4 linked regions of the Homo sapiens genome follow. The protein of the gene in region 4 purifies or fractionates together with the protein of the main gene of each other region. This does not show direct contact. Each region holds a gene or a part of one and is shown on either strand. Other genes may lie near its edges.

Region 1 (3,717 bases), on a different chromosome or scaffold from region 4:
TCTACAGAAAAGCAGGCTTGAGTTTTGGGATGAAATGATTGGGGAGTGTAAATTGCAGCAAAAGAGTTCCCTGAATTTGCAACCTCTTCCCATTAAACAATATTGTAGGAAGAGGGGTGTTTGGTAAGCAATTTACCTGGTTTCCTGCTCCACGGATGACAACTTTAGTAGAGGCTGAATCACAATCTTCTGAAAATGCAGCTGCATGTCCTGGCTTCAGTGCTGTATTGTAAAGGGCAAGAATATCACCTGAAATAGACAAGATGTTAAGATTTACATTTCCGTTGCCTTGAGAGTTCCCTGTTACTCCCACTTCTCCCTATGGTGACCTTTTATAGAAGACCATAAATAAACCACTACAGCCCACTGTAGCCCATTGTTTTATTTAGCAATTGTACCCAATCTGGGTGGAGAACAGCACTCATGGTGACATTTTTGATACCTTGCACAATTACATCATCATCCATGTATATGGCCTTCTTTGCGCTGGGAACCAGAATTGGCAAGTAGAACCTTGCAAAGGTTAACTGGAAAAGGAAAGAATAATTGGCATAGGATACCGCACTAGCTGTGCTTTTATTTACACAGAAACTCCTAGGATGCTTTCAGTACCCATTCAGGAGAAGAAAGGACTCTTAGAACCACCCAGGCTTGGTCCCCAGGAAACTACTTGCACTATACCCACAGATACCCAGGTATTCCATTATTTCCTAATACTGCCAAGTGCAAAGAAGGATGCATGGAACTCACAGGTTTCATGGATTCCCCCTGGTCAGGATCCTCCTTTACTTTTCCTTCCAAAAGTTTAGGGTCAAAATTGACAATTTTGTATCTGATGCTTTTCAGGGAATCACTGTTGAGCCAGGACCTGATGAAGATAAAACACTACATTTTAGTTTCAAATAATGTCTCCAAACCAATGAGGGAATAATGCAAAAGAAACCCTATGGACCAAATAGGTGTTTTCAAGCTCCTTTTATCTCTGAGCTTTGGTTTCCTCGTCTGAAGTGAGGGTAATTCCCACCAAAGTCCCTCCCTGAATTAAGATTGTATGGTAATTATCTTCTAACACTAAAACTACTCTAGAAAAACTATAGAATTAAGAACATTTCATCACCACCTGGACTATCCAACTCTTAACTGTGGTGACCCTAATTCCACCACTCAAGTCTGAGGCACTACCTGTAAGAAAAAACTGTTTGCTAAAGGAGTACTGCACATTTTTTCTAGGTCAGTTTCAAATCAGTGTTTTGTGGCTACTTAGTGTTATTTCTGTAGTCTATTTTTATACAGCTTCTGTTTCTGTATTTTAAATGCGTTCAGAATTTACAGCTTTAAAAACTAAATATGAACCATGCAGAGGGCCACAAGGACCAAAATGTTTCAGAAATTTGACAACTGGTTAATTTGTTAGACCAACAAATTTGGAGTAAGTTTTATAAGTCTTATTCATTTTCAAAATGGATTAGACTATCCAAGTTTCCCCAGATCACTCTGGGCCAGGATTTGGATCAGGATCTGTGATCAGCATCACAACACTACCTTGCCATTGTTGCTAAGTCCCTTCCCACTCTAGACCAGAACTGCTCCGAGCATGTCCATGAAATAAGGAACTTGTGACTTGTAAATCAACATTTACTGCTCCCTTCACTGAGAAAGTATTATTATCAAAACACCATCAGGTGGGGTTAACAGTTCAGAGTGACAGCTGACTTACTTCCTGGCATGAGCTCCTTGTATCACTTCTCCTATTATGGGGATATGCTCATAATACAGTCCTAAAAAAAATATGTCATTTGTACAGTTTATCACTGGTACAATTTCAATTGTATAAAACAACATACAAACCACAGAAAAACAGATCCTGGATTGGCAGCTGGCCTGCTCTAAATCATCCTCTAGAAGCAGAATCACATAAGCAGAGCTCACCGGAGATGGTCTGCTGTATTGTTGAGAGTAACAATGTAGAAAATCACATTGGAGCGAGTGTTGTGCTGAATGCTGTTTATAGCTGCAATGGCCCCCCCAAGCCTGTCTTCAGATGCAGCGATGACCACAGGAATCTCCTCTTGTCTCCCATCTACTGCATGTCGGAGAGCATTTGGGACAAAGTCTATAGGTTGAGGCCCTACAATTCCTGAATCTGAAAACACAAGGAAGGCACTGTGATTACAATCTCATGGGCTTTTGATATAGAGTCCAAGACATGGAAAAAGGGAAGGTAAGGATTATGGTACTGATCTACCTCATTCTCCCCCATTAAACTGAAGCATATAGCCCTGAAACTTTCCCTGTATGTAAATAAGCTTTTGGAAAAGTGGAGGAAGCATTTTTTAAAATACACTGACAGCACTTTGGTACACTACTGGTAGGAAAATAACAGAACCTGTTAGAATGTATTATGGCAATTTGTATCAAGAGTTTCCTAAGGACAAAATCTGAAATATAATCAAAAGAAAGAATTTTATTTAAATTGTGAAAACTTAGCAGCAAACTAAATCAATGTTTTTCAAGTCACGAATCACAAGTAGGCATGAAACCAATTGAGTGAGTCACAATCAATTTATACAGAAAAAGTTTCTGGATTGCAATAGAAAACTGAAATAGAGGCCGGGCATGGTAGGTCACGCCTGTAATCCCAGCACTTTGGGAGGCTGAGGCGGGTGGATCACTTGAGGTCAGGAATTTGAGACCAGCCTGACCAACATGGTGAAACCTCATCTCTACTAAAAATACAAAATGAGCCAGGTGTAGTGGTGAACACCTGTAATCCCAGCTACTTGGGAGACTGAGGCAGGAGAATCGCTTGAACTCGGGAGGTGGAGGTTGCAGTGAGCCAAGACTGTACCACTGCACTCCAGCCTGGGCAGCAATAGGAAAACTCCATCTCAAAAAAAAAAAAAGAAAACTGAATTAGAATACCAAAGAAAACATAGTGTATCACACAAGGAAACTGCAATTACTGTCCTGTATGCATTCTTGCCTTTCATTTTTTTTTTTTTATTCCTCATTGAACCCTGGTATTTACTATGTGCCAGGCAATATCTAGGCACTGGGGTTACAGCCATGAATAAAACATCCCTAACTTTCTGAGGATAGACAGCCAATAAGCAAATACACATGTATGTACATGTGCTACATGTAATGTATTTCCTATTGTAGGGCTGCCATCAAAAAGTCTGAAAGCTGTTGTAGCAAAAGATGTTATCCTGTGGAAACAAATTAATAGACATTAAGATTATGTATGAAGAGTTTCTACCATCACAGTGACATGATATACAGAAAAACATGTCATGTACAGTTTATATATAGTACAATCTCAACTGTACAGAAAAAAAGATGTGTAGGAAAAAACTGGAAGGTACTAAGCCAAAATTGTAAATGAAATCATTCAACCAACTAATATTTATTGAACAGCTAGTATCAGCCATCATCCATAGGCACAGAAGATAAAACAGTACACAAATTGCCTTCATGGAGCTTAAATACTGTTGTCTCTTTTTTTTTTTCTTGAGACGAAGACTCACTCTGTCACCAGGCTGGAGTGCAGTGGCGTGATCTTGGCTCACTGCAACCTCCGCCTCCTGGGTTCAAGCGATTCTCCTGCCTCAGCCTCCCGAGTAGCTGGGACTACAGGCGCATACCACCACGCCCAGCTAATTTTTGTATTTTTAGTAGAGACGGGGTTTCACCATGTTGGCCAGGCTGGTCTTGTAC
Region 2 (3,717 bases), on a different chromosome or scaffold from region 4:
GGTCACACATGGGAGAAATAAGCCTTTGCTATAATACCTCCCTGATATGGATGGCCATCTGTCCTCTTACTACCTACCTGCTACTTACTGAATGTCTGTATCCCTGCAAAATTCATATGTTGAAATCTTAACATCCAATGTGATGGATTTTGGAGGTGGGGCCTTTGGGGGGTGATTAGGTCACCTAAGGCTCCACCCTCATGAATGGGATTAGCATCCTTATAAAAGAAATCCTGGCAAGCTCCCTTGCCCCTTTGGCAAGGGAGAGAAGACAGCCATCTATGAACCAGAAAGCAGGCCTTCATCAGTCACCAAACCTGCAGGCATCTTGATCTTGTACTTGCCAGCCTCCAGAACTATGAGACACAAATTTCTGTTGTTTATAAGCCACCCAGTCGATGGTAGTTTCTTACAGCAGCCAGAACAGACTAAGACACTACCTCTAGAAGACAATAAACATGTAGAACCACCCATTAAGACTGTTTCAAGATTCTTCTGATGACCCTCAGAGTCTGCTGAGAGGGGAAGTTTCCCTTAACACTAAAAACATAATTTACAATCAGCCTCCAGATTTACTTCTATGTGAAGGTCAGAGAAAAATGCACAACCCTCTTTTGCTCCAGTAGCAATAAAGAAAATTAACCAAACAGGGACACTTTCAATTCTGAAGTGAGAAGCCATCCTCTCATCAAAATCTCTATCCAGGTAAACCCGCTCAGTAGTTTCCAAATTTCAGTTATAATAACAAAGTTCAAATTTCAGTTACAATATACCCCTGCTCGAGAACTTAGAACCATTCACTGCTGCCTATTATATTATGCCCCAAACTCCACAGGTCAGTATTCCAAGGCTCTCCATTAACTGGCCTTATCTAATCATCATCATAGGGGCCCTGTCTTCCCCACTCCATTCCAGAAACATCCCACTAATTAATTACCCTGAATTAGCTAGCTTCTTGCTACTGCAAATAGCCTAAGGTACCTCCTTTGTTCTTAAGCACAATACCAGCACCAGCATCTCTGAGGAGAAAGATTTAGGAGTCTCTTCTTTCCCTCAATAACATCTCAACTGATGTCAGCATGTTGGGGAACATCCCTGTTCTCTGGGCTTGCTTTTCCCAAAACAGAGGATCACTATATTTAATTAAGACTCATCCTCAAAAGATGGGAGAGGCATTCAGTGGAGACTGAAAATGTGAAACTCATTACCACAAAAGGAAATAGAGGCTGAAAATGTAGAGAAATTCTGAATGACAGAACCATAAAGAATTATTAAAGGAGCCAGGCATGGTGGCTTACACCTGTAATCCCAGCACTTTGGGAGGCCAAGGCTGTTGGATCACTTGAGCTCAGGAGTTCAAGACCAGCCTGGGCAAGATGGTGAGATCCTGTCTCTACAAAAAATACAAAACTTAGTCAGGCATAGTGGCTCACTCCTGTAGTCCCAGATACTTGGGAGGCTGAGGTGGGAGGACTGTTTAAGCCCAGGAGGCAGAGGATGCAGTGAGCCAAGATCACACCACTGCACTCCAGCCTAGGCAAGAGAGGGAGACCCTATCTCAAAAAAAAAAAAAAAAAGAGGAAAAAAAAGAATTATTAAAAGAAAGCAAACTGCCGCCAGGTGCAGTAGCTCACGCCTGTAATCCCAGCACTTTGGGAGGCAGAGGCGGGCGGATCACCTGAAGTCAGGAGTTCGAGACCAGCCTGGCCAACACGGAGAAACTCTGTCTCTACTAAAAAATACAAAATTAGCAAGGCGTGGTGGCGCATGCCTGTAATCCCAGCTACTCAGGAGGCTGAGGCAGGAGAATCGCTTGAACCCGGGAGGCGGAGGTTGCAGTGAGCCGAGATTGTGCCATTGCACTCCAGCCTGGGCAACAAGAATGAAACTCCGTCTCAAAGAAAAAAAAAGAAAAAGAAAAGAAAAAGAAAGCAAACTGTTCAGGAGATACAACCCAAGGAACTCTTGGGAAGAACTCTCTCTCAAGGAACATACTTCATCAGGAAGTTAAGTTTAGCTAAGTACTGTAACAGATTGATACCAAAGAGGCAACTATGCCTTTCTAAAACTCATTTGGTTAGTCAAGTCACAGACAGAATCCGAAGCTAGATAAAGCCAAGACTGACCTCCATAGAGTCATTCCCCAGAGAATGCACTCTTGGTTACAGAGCACAATATAGTCACTTTTTCCTCTTCCCAATCTCACATAAGGATGCTCTTCAGGAACCTGGACCTTGTCACTGTGGGCACTAACATTCTGGTATGTCAAAGTTTGGCTTTGGTCTACATAGTCTTGTGTCTCCTCAAACCTAGTAAGTTCATATTATCAGGTCTGCTTTTTCTATTTCACCTGTCTGCCAGACACACCTCCTCTTTCTTTTTTCTATTTTATTTATTTATTTATTTATTTAGATGGAGTTTTGTTCTTGTTTTGTTGCCCAGGCTGGAGTGCAATGGCACAATCTCGGCTCACTGCAACCTCCGCCTCCCAAGTTCAAGTGATTCTCCTGCCTCAGCCTCCCAAGTAGCTGGGAATACAGGTGTGCACCACCAAGCCCAGCTGACTTTTTGTACTTTTAGTAGAGACAGGGTTTCACCATGTTGGCCCGGCTGGTCTCGAACTCCTGACCTCAAGTGATCCACCTGCCTCAGCATCCCAAAGTGCTGGGATTACAGGCATGAGCCACTGCGCCCAGCCCACACTGCCCCTTTCATCAGGATAAGTCACTAAGTAACAATGTACAGAGCACACATTGCTTGATTTTTCTCCAAGCCATCCTCATCTTGGCAGCAGGGACCAGGAGTGGCCACAGCAGTGATGATCCCTTGTTAACTCACAAAGCTCCTGATAGGCTTCCCTGTTCCTGCAAGGCTACCAGAAATGCCATGCTGCAATACCATCAGTTCTCTGCAAAGATGCCTTCATTTTCTAGGAGCATAAGCTTGGGAGACCCAAAGAGCCTAGATGCCACTGGGTAACACACACACTAGCTCGCAAGAATCTGGAATATGCTGGCCTAGTATTTGGTACTATGTACACTTTACTAAAGCATGTGTGTTTGAATATCTTCAGGATTCCATAGCCAAAGGGTAACAATGAACAATGAGATAAAATGTCGAAATTAGAAGAAAAAGCCCTGAGTCAGTATAGAGACGTTGGCTGGTCAACTCATCTTGATAAAGGAAACTCACTTCTGTGGGCCTGGTTTCCTCACCCCACACAAGGAGGGAGATAGTCTCCAAAGCCCTTTCCAGATCTACCATCCTATGATTCTGTGGGTCAAGATTGTTAAATTTTAAGTACATCTAGAATGTTTTAATTCAGCAACACTTATTGGCCATCTACTCTATGTAAGGCATGGTAGAGAGCACTGTGGGGGCTACACAGCCATTGAACATAGTCTCTGACCTTGAAAGAGACTAGCTGCGGGGGACAACAACAGTGAGAAGTGTAATCACCATATAGCTCCAAACTATAAGAAATGTCATGTGATTATCTGTTGAATGAGCGGTGTGTACAATTAGCCCAATGAATGCAGAAATTACTGGAAAGTTTTCATGAAGAAAGACTCAAGAAAGAATTTGAAAGAGGGGTAGAATTTGGATAGGCTAGAAAAGTATTGTTTGTATTGATTACTATTGATTACTAAGCAGTGTTACAAAGCTGTTTTCAGTTCATCCAATTCAATGACTCTTCTGCCAATATATACATCAAAA
Region 3 (3,717 bases), about 150 Mb from region 4:
TCCACACGGACAATGCTGTTGCTCTGCAGGAGCAGGGTCTGTGTGCCTGCGGGGAGTGCCGGGGGGACTGCCGTCAGGAATAGGTCATTGCAGTCCACAGTGGTAGCCTCGCGGTAGGACGAGCGGGGCGTATACCAGGGCCGGATCTGGCAGGCACACTGAGGGGGGCAGGGAACATGCCAGGGTACCACGGGCACAGCGGCAGTGGCACCAGCCACCCAAGCTAGCAAGAGTGGGGCCACGAGAAGCCTCATGGTGGAGCTGCAGGGCAGGGGACCATTCACAAGAAGAGTCTGGAGTCCTGCTCTTTGTGTTTTGCAGGGTAAGGGTCAGCAACCCTGCCAGGGCCCAAGGAACCACCCTCCCAGGGCAGTCATTCTACACCGGGCGTCACTTCTTGCCCTCCTCAATATGCCTTCTCTTCCTTGTCCTCTGGGGCTGGGCCTGCTCAGTCATTGCCAGGCCCCATCAGGGGCAGCCCTGGAAGAAGAGGATGCAGAGTTAAGGAGGTTGCAGAGAAGCAGTATCTACCCCTCCTCCCGTGTTTGTTTGTTTGAGACAGAGTCTCATTCTGTCACCCAGGCTGGAGTGCAGCGGTGCACTCAGCTGACTGCATCCTCCGCCTCCTGGATTCAAGCGATTCTCCTGGCTCAGCCACCTGAGTAGCTGGGATTACAGGCACCTGCCACCACTCCTGGCTAATTTTTGTATTTTTAGTAGAGATGGGGGTTTCTCCATGTTGGCCAGGCTGGTCTCGAACTCCTGACCTCAAGTGATCTGCTCACCTCGGTCTCCCAAAATGCTGGGATTACAGGTGTGAGTCACCGTGCCTGGCCCCTCCCATGTTTTTTGACTCAACAAGCCAAAGGAGCTGCAGAGGTAATGGCCAGGCCTGTCCTTAAGGCTTTAGTGTCCTTTTCTATGACCTGCTCACAGAGTGAGTGACTGTGAGTCTTCAGTGAAGGAGAGGAAGGTGTATGTGTGTGTATGTGTGTGTGTACATGCACATGTGTGTTTGGGAGGGAAGGAGAGTGGATGGGCTGAAATTATTGTTATCTTCAGAGTCCTTCTGAGCCCAGAGAGATGTGAGGTAGGTTCTCTAACCTTTCTTACCTCTTTCCTCCCAGCCTCCTTGGCTCACTGGGTAAATGGAAGATAAAATGATAAGTTTCCAGAAGTTCCTCTGGCAGTGTAGGTGGGAGGTGGGTGAGGGTTGGTGGAAATAAGTACAGCTTCTAAAATCTGGGATGGGCTCCCCAGGACCCTAGAGGTGAAAGGCAGCAGACCTGACACATCCAGGCAGGCTGGGGTGTTCTGCTGCCCAGGATCTTCTGGGTGGGGATATTGCTTTGGTGTTTGCCAACTTCCCCACCCTGGAGGCAGGAGTGTTTCTCCTTTCCCAACAGCCTGGCAGTGTTGCCCAGGAGGAGGCAGTGGAGTTAAGAAGCCTGGGTCTGAGCTCCTCAGCTGTGCAGGTAAGACCTTCTGTGACCTGGCCCGGCCCCTTCACCTGGCTTCTCTTGTCACCACCCCACTTACCCGCTGCACACAAACCTTTTGGGTTGAGGTTACCGTGACATGCCACCCCTTCTGATGTCTCCTCCTCATTGTCTTCCAGACAACTCCTACTTGTTCTTCAACGCTCAACTTTAAGTTCAGTCACCACCTGCAGAAGTCTTCTCCAAAACCTCCCCACCTGGCTGACTAAGGGGCTGGCTTTATGCTCTTGCAGTACTCATGCTTCCTACTGTCACAGTTCTGACCACACCGTGGGAAAACGTCTCTAACTAGAGACCTGTCTTGCCTCTTGTGCCTGTAGTACGGGATGGGTGCCCAGTGTGTGTTGATTGTATGAATCAATCTCTGTGACTCCAGAGTTCCTTTCTTCAGGAGATTAGACATCACCCCTGCAATCAACAATGCAAGCCACTGCTGTTTCCTCCATCCTGAGCATGAGGAACCTATCCAGTTTCTCTCTCAGATGCCAGGGCCATGAGGCAAGTCCAGCCTTGGCCTAGAACCAAAGATGGAAACAAAAAGGGGCCAGACTGTGTTGCCTTCTTGAGCCTGGTCTGACTCCTGAGTGGAAGTCTGATTCCAGGTAAGTTTTTAGCTACAAGTGTCAAGGAAATGCACAAACACTTACTGAGCACCTACCATTGCTCAGGACTCTTTGAAGACTCTGAATGTCTTTTTTCATATGACTCTCATAACAGGTACATGAGATAAGCACTAATACCTCCAGTTTGCAGATTAAGAGACTGAGGTCCTGAAGAGGTTAAAGAACTTGGCTCAAGTCACATAGCTGGTGAGCAGCAAGATACAAGAATCAACCCAAGTCCAGGGGGCTGTGTGCCGTTTACACTTCACATCTGTGCTGCCAGGTCTGTCTGATCTGACCCTGCCCTGGGCCTCTGGAGGGTCTGGGATGCACTGAATGCTGCAGCTGCAGGCCCTGTGCCTGTTCTCGTCCCCTGGGGTGATGACTCCTTACCAGGCAGCTGCAGAAAGCTTGGAGCTATGTCTCCTGCCACCATCCAGGCAGGTGCCTCTCAGCGGGCCAGAGGGGCTCTTCACCTCCCTCATCCTGCTTCCAGGATGCTAGGGCTTGGGAGGGGAGCAGCTGGAGGCAGGGTCCCGTTCCCTGAGCAGGAACACAGCAAGCCTATTTACATTTGGCTACTTCCCACTTTCCTCTGCAGCTATTTCTGAAGGTGGGAAAAACAACCGCGACTTCAAAGGCACAGAGGTTTTGATAGGGGTGTGTGTGCACCGACACGTAAAACTCAGTGTGAACAAACACATGTGTACACATGCATGCATGCCTGCATACCTGTGCAAGGGGAACCCAGCTACCCAAGCCAGTGTATGGGGGTCAGGAAGCAGGGAGGGAATTTTGTGGTGGTCTAGGTGGGTGGAAAGGAAGGAGGGAACAAGCTGAGTCTCCGAGAGGTCCCTGTTGTGGAACTGGATCTATGGCCAGTAATCCTGCCACACTTACATACCAGAGACCCCTGACTGCCACCTAGACCTGCTGTGAGAGAGCAGACCTACCGGCAAATAGATCAGGACCCAAATCGCGGCCCTACCACTCACTACCCAAGTACCTGAGGCAAAGCTACTTGACTGCTCTGAGCAACCATTTCCTTCTGTATTACATGAGATTGTCATTGGAGTTAAATGAGTGTGTTGCACACAGAAAGAACTGGACAAATGTTAGCTCTCTTCCAGCTCCAGTCATCCCTCAGGGTCAGGAGGTTCTCCAGCTATAGGACTTCTTAGGGGACAATAGAAGTTGGCTCCTAGGACTCCTAGGGCTCGATAAGTTAGCAAGTGCCATGCTAGTTGGGGAGGCAGGTTCAAAAACACGAAACAACTAGGAGAGCCCAAGACATTTCCCAAGTGGAGAGAAGGGTGAGGGCTGGAGGAGGTGGAGAGGGGTCTTCAGCTGGGCCCCAGCATCTCCCTGACCTTTAGACCCTACCCGAGTCCAGTTTCCCTTCTTCATCAACACTTGGTTCTAAGCGCTGAGTCCGTGCTCAACTGCACTGAGGGGATCAAGGAACCATTTAAAACTTCATTGAAACCCTCCAGGCACTTGCCTTTCCCCTTCACCCCAGACTGCTGCCCCTTCCTTCCCTCCCCTGGTTGGGCTGGGTGGATGAGGCAGAGGTCGTGGCTCCTGGGCCGGGAGCCTGGGGCTGGGCCTCGGGATCC
Region 4 (3,500 bases):
CACTATAAAGCAGAAACTTGTTTACCACTCACTGAAATGCTTGACCTGGTATCTGACACCGAGTAGGTGATAGTCAATAAGTGGTATGGCCCACTATCTTTCTCTTTTTCCTTTTTTTGTTGGGGGTGGGGAGGAGTAAAATGTGGGGGAGGGACCATATCTGAACTCCTTGGAGAAGAGGAAACATGCACACTTTCATAAAACCTGCCTCTCACCCTCATAAGGCTTGATATTTTTTCCTAGGAGGGCATATGGTACCCCTACTCTCACTTGCCCACTTTACCATTACCCTTAAAAACTCTTGGCATAGAGCTGATATTCCTTAGTATAGAATACAAAGCCCTTCTTAATCTAGAGTCTTTATCCAGCTCTTCTAGCGTCAAATCTGGCCATGCAGATAAAAACAAAAACAAAAATCTGATCCCTAAACCATTCAAACATACTTATTTTATTTATTTTATTTTTTGAGACAGAGTCTCACTCTGTTACCTAGGCTGGAGTGCTGTGGCGTGATCTCAGCTCACTGCAACCTCTGCCTTCCAGGTTCAAACGATTCTCCTGCCTCATCCTCCTAAGTAGCTGGGATTACAGGCATGCACCACCACGCCCGGCTAATTTTTGTATTTTCAGTAGAGATGGGGTGTCGCCATGTTGGCCAGGCTGGTCTCGAACTCCTGACCTCAGGCGATCCACCCGCCTTGGCCTCCTAAAGTGCTGGGATTACAGGCATGAGCCACTGTGCCCGGCCTCAGACATATGTTAAATTAAAGCTTAATTTAAATGTGTGGAGAAGCACATTCAACATAAATCAAGAGATTCTAACAAGAAAAATGCTCTTGTACTGTGAAAAAAACTACCTGCCTGGGTTTTATTCAAGTAGTATGCCTACAACCTTTTAAACAAACTAAAATATCTAATGTACAACTTTGGAAAGGAACAAGTAAAAAGGTTTACTTTTGAGGTGCTAATTTTAAAATAATAAAAAGTAATATATCTCTCTGATACAAGCCAGATTTTATCTGTTATACACATAATAAAGAGGAATACATACAGAGAGAGGCATCTTAAAAAGCCATCACTTTCTCCATCTTCAAGAAAATTCCTGTGCGCTTGTGAATTTCTCATTTGCAGATCTGCTGAAATAGTAAGTATGAGTTTATTATATCCTATATTCCAAAAGCTAGTCTCACATGACTACTTCTAGATATATACACTTTACAGATATCCAATTGTTTTTGTTTGTGTCATCTGATACATTTTATAATGTGTACCAGTTTCTCTAGCACATCAAAACCAAATGAATATTCTATCACATTATGAGTTTCCTGTTTTATTTTCAAATTCTTATTGACATTGATGCTTTCTGCTTAATTACATGTGAGCTTGGATTTGGTTTATTCTAATCTAATTAAAGTTAAAGATGGTCTTATGTTATGTGCTATCATTATCTACCCACTCCCACCCACCAAAATAATTAGAAGGCTAATTAAATCAGTATCTAAAATAAGGTATGAGGAAATTTCACAAGGTGAGTTCTGCTTTAGCTTGATGTTTTATGTTCTTATAAGTCAAAATTCACTTCTAACATGGAAATAAAAATAGAATGGGGACTCTCACTTTTGGCATTTTTCATTATTTGATCAATTTATTGGGAAATACCAGAATATTTGATTAGTTCATGCTCAAAACATCCTTTGAAGCAAACTAAATGTTTTTAGAATAGTGATTTTCAAAGTGTGGCCCCCAGGCCAGCAGCATCAGCAAAATCTGGAACTTGTGAGAAATACAAATTCTCAGATCTTCTCCCAGACCTAGTAAATTAGAAACTCTGGAGGTAGGGCCCAGCAATCTGTGTTTGAACAAGCTCTCCAAACTGTAATACACATGAAAGTTTGAGAACCACTGTTTTAGAAATTATCTGTTTATGTTCCATCAGTGTAAAAACAAACATGACCAACTCTACTACAACCAGATTTGACTGCTAATGTTTTTATCTAAGCTACTTAAAATAAAACTTACAGGACATTTTGCTTAGAGATGATTCTCTCAAATTTGTAGGCTCCTGCTCCAAATGTGGTGCGTACTGGATTTCTGGCTTAGACTAAAATAATAATGAAAGCAATTAAGTCATTTGTACTTCTTTAGCTTTTTTCAGTAACAAGTTCTAAAACAAATCATCTCTTTAAACATTTAAATTGAGAAAAAGTAGCAGAAATACTGTATAAAAAATAAAACACATTAACCACAATATATTTTAATTGCACTTCCTAAACATCAGAGCCAGTGCCTTGCAAAGAAACAGATTTCTGGCAGATTTATGTTAGTTTAACTTCCTGACAACGTTTTGTTTTGTTTTTTTTTTTTTTTAAAGGGAGAGAGGGACAAATCATGACATACTACATTAAATACTATACCTTGCAGAAATGAGTTCTAATTCTAGTTGATCAGGAATAATTTATCAGACTGCCAAAACTTTTGGCTAAATACACATTATCTCTATTTATTCTCATATGAAACATTATATTCTTCCCTAAGTATGAGGAATCCATAAATTACAGCCAAACACTCCATACTTTTTACATCTTGTGTATAGTTCTGATCCTCTAGAATGGGGGTTTCTGCATCCCAGTTATGCTCAAATTCACACAGACTTTAGAGAGACACAGAGCTAATCTCCTATCTAATGAGGAATGAATGAGGGCTTCACTCTGAGAGTCAACTTATGCCTTGAGGTAAGTAGCTTTAGGACCTAGAACTTGTTCATGAATTTAAAGAGAAAATTCCTGTGTTTTACTTATTACCAAATTAAGTAGAGGGGACCCAAGGTTCAGGGGAGTGCTAAAAATCACATACCAGCCATACATTAAGCCACTTACTTAGCTACAGTACTTAAAAGGTTTACTTTATTACCTGAGAGGAAGACAGTGCCACAACATAAACTCTGTTGACTGGTAAATTTGAGGAATTCAACTACTGAATTAAAAGCATGGTAGGGTAGTATATGGGCCTTGGTGCTAAAGTGCCCTGGGTTTGAAGCTTAATTCTGTTACTTATTGGCCGTGAAACTGCAACAAGTTACTCTCACCTTCCTCATAATAAAACAGGAATAATACAACCTCATAAAGTTGTTTGAAGATGTGAGAGAATATATCTAGCACAATATAACCTCCAGGGAATAACAGTTATTATCATGTGGTAAACGATGAGATAGGAGACATTACTTCTCTAGGCAAAATACTTCTTCAACAAGTTCTCTTATTAGAGTCATGAGTAAAAGCACTGTAAAAAACTAAAAATTATGTCATATTGCTTTTATCTGATATCCATATGTAATCATATATGGCCACTATTTATGTTCGAAGTATATTAATTATTGTCTCTCATATTTAAAAATTTCATTTTATCAATTTAACCACCATAAAATTTAAAAGACTCAAGAGTTCTGGTTACATAAAAACTAATGGGCTTTAGATTAGGCTTCTAACGGGCAAAGGGAAGGG

Evidence for each region. The genes of interacting proteins can lie anywhere in the genome.
Region 1: the proteins of TMEM59 (region 4) and GLT8D1 purify together in Homo sapiens (co-immunoprecipitation; 2 studies listed by BioGRID and IntAct, with this or other methods). This does not show direct contact.
Region 2: the proteins of TMEM59 (region 4) and ZDHHC9 purify together in Homo sapiens (co-immunoprecipitation; 2 studies listed by BioGRID and IntAct, with this or other methods). This does not show direct contact.
Region 3: the proteins of TMEM59 (region 4) and LRRN2 purify together in Homo sapiens (co-immunoprecipitation; one large-scale study listed by IntAct). This does not show direct contact.

What each region holds. Positions count from the first base shown.
Region 1 is NC_000003.12:52,695,792-52,699,508, forward strand, and holds part of GLT8D1 (glycosyltransferase 8 domain-containing protein 1), read right to left. Parts: intron 2,144-3,717; coding exon 1,930-2,143; intron 869-1,929; coding exon 751-868; intron 528-750; coding exon 443-527; intron 250-442; coding exon 137-249; intron 1-136.
Region 2 is NC_000023.11:129,833,887-129,837,603, forward strand, and holds part of ZDHHC9 (palmitoyltransferase ZDHHC9), read right to left. Parts: intron 1-3,717. UniProt on the Homo sapiens protein: Palmitoyltransferase that catalyzes the addition of palmitate onto various protein substrates, such as ADRB2, GSDMD, HRAS, NRAS and CGAS. The ZDHHC9-GOLGA7 complex is a palmitoyltransferase specific for HRAS and NRAS.
Region 3 is NC_000001.11:204,619,739-204,623,455, forward strand, and holds part of LRRN2 (leucine-rich repeat neuronal protein 2 precursor), read right to left. Parts: intron 2,385-3,717; exon of another isoform or gene 2,217-2,384; intron 2,102-2,216; exon of another isoform or gene 1,619-2,101; intron 1,476-1,618; exon of another isoform or gene 481-1,475; 5' UTR 255-480; coding exon 1-254.
Region 4 is NC_000001.11:54,039,705-54,043,204, forward strand, and holds part of TMEM59 (transmembrane protein 59 isoform 2 precursor), read right to left. Parts: intron 2,102-3,500; coding exon 2,020-2,101; intron 1,137-2,019; coding exon of another isoform or gene 1,134-1,136; coding exon 1,052-1,133; intron 1-1,051.